2 linked regions of the Homo sapiens genome follow. The protein of the gene in region 1 interacts with the protein of each later gene in a biochemical or structural test. Each region holds a gene or a part of one and is shown in the gene's direction. Other genes may lie near its edges.

Region 1 (3,500 bases):
AAGATTTACCTGATTAAAATGTACAATTCAATAATCTTTTAGTAAATTTACATAATTGTTCAGTCATCACCACAATCCAATTTTAGAACATTTCCATCATTCCAGAAAGATGCCTCATGTCCATTTGCAGTTACTCCCTGTTCCCACCCCCAGCCCCAGGCAATCACAAATATACTTTCTGTCTCTATAGATTTGTCCTTTCTGGACATTTTATGTAAATGTAATCATATAATATGTGGTCCTTTGTGTTTGGCTTCTTTTACTTTCCATAATGCTTTTTGAGGTTCATCCATCTGCCATGTAGTACATGGTTCCTTTTTATTGGATACCAGTTAATGGGCATTGGATTGTTTCTGCTTTTTGGCTGTTTGGAACAAGGCTGCTTTGAGTATTCACATCAAGTCACCCCATGAATATGTTTCATTTTTCTTGGATGTATACCCAGGAGTGGAATTGCTGGGTTATATCACAAATTCAACTGTTTAAGAAACTGCCAAACTGATTTTCAAAGTAACTGTACCATTTTATGTTCCTACTAGTAATTATAAGAGTTCTTGTTTCTCTAAATTTGTTGTCTTTTTGCGTGTAACCATCCTAGTGACTATGAAGTGGTATCTCATTGTGGTTTTGATTTGCATTGCCCTAATGACTAATGATGATGAACATCCTTTCATGTCCTTATTTATTAGACTTTCATGGATCTTCTTTGGTGAAATATCTATTCAAATCTTTTGTCCACTTGGACTGCCCATTGGGTTGTTTTTTTTTTTGTTTGTTTGTTTGTTTTGAGATGGAGTCTTGCTCTGTTGCCCAGGCTGGGGTGCAGTGGTGCCATCTCGGCTCACTGCAACCTCTGTCTCTTGAGTTCAAGCAACTCTCCTGCCTCAGCCTCCTGAGTAGCTGGGGTTATAGGTGCCTGCCACCATGCCCAGCTAATTTTTGTGTTTTTAGTAATGATGGGGTTTCACCATATTGGGCAGGCTGGTCTCAAACTCCTGACCTCAGGTGATCCGCCTGCTTGGCCTCCCAAAGTGCTGGGATTACAGGGGTGAGCCACTGCGCCTGGCTGTTCGTTTTTTTTTTGAGTTATAGAAGTGTGTGTATGTGTGTTTGTATGTGTATTCATTCTGGGTATGCGTCGTTCATCTGATATATGATTTAATTTAAATATTTTCCTGTCTGTAGTTTTTTTTTTCTTCTCATTTTCTTTCTTTTTTTTTGAGACAGTCTTACTCTGTCACCTAGGGTGGAGTGCAGTGTCATGATCAGGGCTCACTCCACCTCCTGGGCTCAAGTGATCCTCCCACCCCTGCCTCCCAGGTAGCTGGGACTACAGGTACATGCCACCACGTTTGGCTAATTTTTGTGTTTTTTGTAGAAACTGGGTTTCGCCACATTTCCCAGGATGGTCTCAAATTCCTGATCGCTCAAGCGATCTGCCTGCCTCAGCCTTCCAGAGTGCTAGGATTACAGGCGTGAGCCACTGCGCTTAGCCTTCTTTAATTTTATTATTATTATTTTTTTTTGAGTTGGAGTCTTACTCTGTCGCCCAGGCTGGAGTGCAGTGGCATGATCTTGGCTCACTGCAACCTCCGCTTCCTGGGTTCAAGCAATTCTCCTGTCTCAGCCTCCCAAGTAGGTGGGATTACACATGCGTGCCACCACACCAGGCTAAGTTTTTGTATTTTTAGTAGAGACTGGGTTTCACCATGTTGGCCAGGCTGGTCTCGAACTCCTTACCTCAGATGATCTGCCTGCCTCGGCCTCCCAAAGTGTTGGGGTTACAGGTGTGAGCCCCCGCGCCTGGCCTCTTTCATTTTCTTAATGGAGTCTTTTAAAGTACAAAAGTTTTGAATTTTGATGTTTATCATTTTTTTCTTTTATTGATTTTGCTTTTGGTGTTGTATCTAAGAAATCTTTACTAACCCAACATTGTGAAGATTTTTTTTTCCTGTTTTTTTTTAAGTGTTAGTTTTAGCTCTTGCATTTAAGCCTCTGATACATACTGAGTTAATTTTTGTGTATGGTGTGAAGTAAGGTGAACCACCTTGTTTTACAGTTGAAGACACAGAGACAGAAAGGTAACATGACTGCTTAAAGCCATGTAGCTAATTAGAGGCAGAGCCAATACTGGCATCTGTGTCTCCTGTAGCCTAATTCGGGATCCTTGTTCCTGTATCTACATTGATTCGTTCTTGGATATAAACTGGAAGATGGGGGTCATTGTCTCACAGATTAAGGGAATGATCTCCCCTGCTTTTTTCTGAGAAGGGTCTCACTCTGTCACCCAGGCTGGAATGTAATCACAGCTCACTGTCTCACTGTATGAACTCCTGGCTCGAGTGATCCTCTTGCCTCGTCCTCCCCAGTAGCTGGACTACAGGCATGTGCCACCATGCCCGCCTCATTGTTTTATTTTTTTGTAGAGACAGGGTCTCATATGTTGTCCAGGCTGGTCTCTACTTCTGGGCTCAAGTGATCCTCCCACCTTAGCCTCCTAAAGTGTTGGGGTTTACAGGTATGAAGCACTGTGCCTGGCCAAGGGAAGTATCTATCCTTAGAGTGAAAAAAATCTGATGGATGTTCCACACCTGTCACGTCCTTCCAGTCTGCTCCTGACAGCCTCTCTCCATTTTCCCAACAGGGAGAAAAAAAATTTTTTTTCTTTGAGCTACAGCCTAGTATAAGTAGCAAGTTTCAGTAAAGCATTGTATTCTTATTCTAACTTTGCTTCCATACCAAAATGTTTGTTACATAGTATTTTATAATAAGCTATAGTCTTCAAAATGAATCTTTATGATTTCAGATTACACTCAACTTTTTCAGGAAACACATGATTAAAATCTAGAAAAAAGGGTTTGGGATCATTTAAATTTTGTTTTCAAAGGATTGTATTCTAGAGAAATCAGTGTAATGGTGTCATCTCCATCAAAACACGTACATTTATTTGAACTGTAACATGTTTATTTGAACTGTAATTTTTTTCACATTTGCTTCTCAGCAGTATACTATTTATGGGATTGTTTCTCACATTCTGTTTTGTTCTTCGTCTTTCTGGTAAAATCCTACAGAGAACAGAATCTCCTCTTAGGAACATATTAAAAGCCTATAGATTGAAAATTCAAAGGACTTTTTTTTTTTTTTAAAGAATTGTATCACCTTAAGCATGCTTTGGCAAGATTTGAAGTTCTTTAAGTATGATTATGTGTAAAAGATGTTAGTATCATTCTCACAATTAATCATTGATCTTTCAGTATTTTTGAGCCCTTAGTCTTAGATTAGAATTTCTGAGCATGTGTTATACTGTATTTGGCATGTGTTGAAGCAGCTGTAAAAATTTGGGCTTTGGGGTTAGACTGACCCAGATTCAAATCCTGACATTGCCTCTTACTAGTTATGTGATCTTAGACAAATTATATGATTAGTTTCCGTGTCAGCTTTTTGTCTGTATAGTGGGGAGAATAGTACCTATGTCACTGGGGCCGTTATATAGATTGAGT
Region 2 (3,500 bases), on another chromosome or scaffold:
TTCTTCGAGCACATTTAAGACAGTCGGTTTAAAGCCTTTGTTTACTAAGTCCAATGTCTAGGCTTCCTTGGGCATGTTTTTGTCAGTTAAATATTTTCCTTTGAATGAGTCATACCTTCCTGTTTTATTTGCTTTAGATTTTAGGTCACTAAATTTTTCTTTGTGTCTAAACTGCTGTTAAACCTATCCATTCAGTTTTTAATTTGGGTTATTGTGTTTTTCAGTTGAATTTTTTTTTAACCGTATCTCCTGTATCTTTAAAAAAAAAAAAAAGTTTCTGACTCTTTACCAAAATTCTCTATCTTGTATCTCCTTCACATAATATTTTTTAGTTTTTGTTTGCTCTTTGTCCTAGTTTTTCTTTATATTGCCTTGTCTTTTCTTGTGACTTTTTAAATATTCTGTGTAGGACATTGTAGTTGAAATTGTATTTGCAAAAAGAATTTGAGGTCTAGTAATAGGTTTCTCATTATTGTTTAATTTGCCTTAGAGCAAATTAAACAATTTTCATATTCTTATATTTTCATATTCTTATCAGCCGTCTTTTAAAAAGTGCCTGGTCAAGGATAGTGACCATTTAAAAGTTGATTTGTTTAACTTTTTATTATTGATTTGTGGGAGTTCATCATATATCTTTTGTCATATACAAGGGGGCTTCCAAAAGTTCACAGAAAAATGGAATTAAAAGATAAAAGTAAGAAATATATGGCTGGCCATGGTAGCTCACACCTGTAATCCCAGCACTTAGGGAGGCTGAGGCAGGTGGATTGATTGAGTCCAGGAGTTCAAGACCAGCCTTTGCAATATGGCAAAACCTCATCTCTACAAAAAATATAAAAATTAGCTGGGCTGCTGGGTGCAGTGGCTCACGCTTGTAATCCCAGCACTTTGGGAGGCTGAGGCGGGTGGATCACCTGAGGTCAGGAGTTCAAGACTAGCCTGGCCAACATGGTGAAACCCTGTCTCTACTAAAAGTACAAAAAAAAAAAAAAAATTAGCCCAGCATGGTGGTGGGCTTCTGTAATCCCAGCTACTCAGGAGGCTGAGGCAGGAGAATCGCTTGAACCTGGGAGGCAGAGGTTGCAGTGAGCCGAGATTGTGCCATTGCACTCCAGCCTGGGCGACAAGAGCAAAAGTCCGTCTCAAATAAAAATAAAAAAACAGCTGGGCATGGTGGTGCATACCTATAGTTACAGCTACTAAGGAGGCTGAGGTGAGAGGATCGCTTGAGCCCAGGAGGTCAAGGCTGCAGTGAGCCGAGATAGTGCCACTGCACTCCAGCCTGGCGACAGAGCAAGACCCTGTCTGAAAAAAAAAAAACAGCTGGGCATGGTGGCACATACCTATAGTTACAGCTACTAAAGAAGAAATACACGCTTTTTTCTTAACACAAGCACCATCAAGTTCAAGACACTTATAAGCAATGATGCCAGCCATTTATAAGCAATGATGCCAGCCATTTATAAGCAATGATGCCAGCCATTTAGTCCCTCCCTAAAGACCTAATGGTCCTGGGAATTTAACCATGGCCATGGAGTCTTTTTTACATTATTAATTGACAAAAAATGGGTGCCCTTTACAGATGTTTCAAAATTAGGAAGCAAAAAGAAGTCAGAGGGAGCCAAATCAGGACTGTAGGGTAGATGCCTGATGATTTCCCATGGAAACTCTTGCAAAATCACCCTTCTTTGGTGAGAGGAACGAGCAGGAGCATTGTCGTGATGGAGATGGACTCTCTGGGGAGGCTTTCCCGGGGGGGGTTTTGCTGAAGCTTTGGCTAACATTCCCTAAACATTCTCATACTAAGCAGATGTTACATTCCTTGTTACCCCTCCAGAAAGTCAGCAAGCAGAATGCCTTAAGCATCCCAAAAGCTGTTGCCACAATGTGCTCTTGACTGGCCCACTTTTGCTCTGATGGGACCACTTCCAGCCCTCAGCACCATTGCCTTGACTGCACTTGGTCTTCAGGACCATACCAGGAAAGCCACGTTTCATGTCGCTATAGTTCAAAGAGAGCTTCAGGATCTCCATCCCACTTGTTCAAAGTTACCACTGACAGCTCTGCTCTTCTCTGCGCCTGATGTGGGCGCAATGGGTTTGGCACCCATTGAGTGGAAAGTCTGCTCAACTTTCATTTTTCTGTCAGAATTGTGTAAGCTCAACCTACTGAGCTGTCTGTGGTGTTGGCCACTATTTCTGCTGTTAACCACCCGTCCTCTGCACTTACGGCTCAGACCAGATGAGTGTTTTCCTCACAAAGTGATGCGGATGGCCTGCCGCTGTGGGCTCCGTCTTCAGCATGGTCTCATCCCTTCTTAAAACAAGTCAACCATTTGTAAACTGCTATTTTCTTTGGGGACATGGACCCTGTAAACTTTTCAGAAAGCATCAGTGATCTCACCATTCTTCCACCCAAGCTTCACCATACATGTGATGTTGGTTCTTGCTTGGCAGAATTCACGTTATTGTGATAGGGGCTCTTTTCAAACTGAAGTCTTCTCCTTCTTAGTGCCTCAGACTACCTCCTCTTCAGACATGCTGCAATAAGTTAGTACAAGTTTATTTGGGTACAAAGATTTTTTTTGAAAGTCATGCATAGTTTTTTCATGGTATGTCTTTTCCATGAACTTTTTGAAGACCCCTTGTGTGTGTGTGTGTGTGTGTGTGTGTGTGTGTGTGTGTGTATATAATGGATATAGTCTACCAATCTGTGGTTTGTGTTTTCACTTTCTTAATGGTGAACATGAAATGGTAAAAATTTTAATTTTTTTTTTCCTAAAAGCTTTGCAGCTTTAGCTATTGCTTTAGATCCCATGAGCCATCTCAAATGAACTCTTGAGTATATTTTGATGCAGAGGTAAATCTGTTTTTTTCCTCTCTGCATATCTGATCGTTCCAGCCCCTTCCTCTCCATATTGAATTGCACTGAATTGAGCAGACATTCGTCAAGTGGTCGTCTGTGTGTAGGTCCATTTCTGAATTTGCTATTTTGTTTGCTTTAGCAATTCCCTTATCATTGTGGCAACACCACACTCTCTTCATGACTGAAGTTTTCTAGGAAGTTTAATCTTTGCTCAGGAAAGACTTTCAGTGTTGATCTTCTTCAAGAAGTTCTTGATTTTTTTCAGGTCGTTAATATTTCCATATGTTTTAGGAACAGCCTGTCACTTTCTGCAGGCTAGCCCACTGGGATTTCGGCTGGGAGTGGATTCAGTCTGTTGATTATCTGGGTGAGGTTTGACATATGAACAACATGAGCGTTCCTGTGAATGTAGTGTCCGTTTACTGGCATCTTTTTTGTTTCTCTGCAGTGTAAAGATGTTATACCTCTTTCATTAAATTTATCCCTAGGTAGCTGATGTTTTGGAATGCTATTATAAATGTTATTTTTCTTTAAATCTCCTTTTCCAGCTTCCTGTTGCTAGAATATAAAACTATGGTTGACTTTCGTACCCCATATCCTGCAATTGTGCTAAATTTGCTATTAGTTCTAGAAAT

Evidence for each region. Proteins that work in one complex are often made in the same cells at the same time.
Region 2: the proteins of OXSR1 (region 1) and WNK2 interact in a test that uses a peptide from one of them, tested with the Homo sapiens proteins (one large-scale study listed by BioGRID and IntAct).

Annotation. Positions count from the first base shown.
Region 1 is NC_000003.12:38,168,537-38,172,036, forward strand, and holds part of OXSR1 (serine/threonine-protein kinase OSR1), read left to right. Parts: intron 1-3,500. UniProt on the Homo sapiens protein: Effector serine/threonine-protein kinase component of the WNK-SPAK/OSR1 kinase cascade, which is involved in various processes, such as ion transport, response to hypertonic stress and blood pressure.
Region 2 is NC_000009.12:93,313,139-93,316,638, forward strand, and holds part of WNK2 (serine/threonine-protein kinase WNK2), read left to right. Parts: intron 1-3,500. UniProt on the Homo sapiens protein: Serine/threonine-protein kinase component of the WNK2-SPAK/OSR1 kinase cascade, which plays an important role in the regulation of electrolyte homeostasis, cell signaling, survival, and proliferation.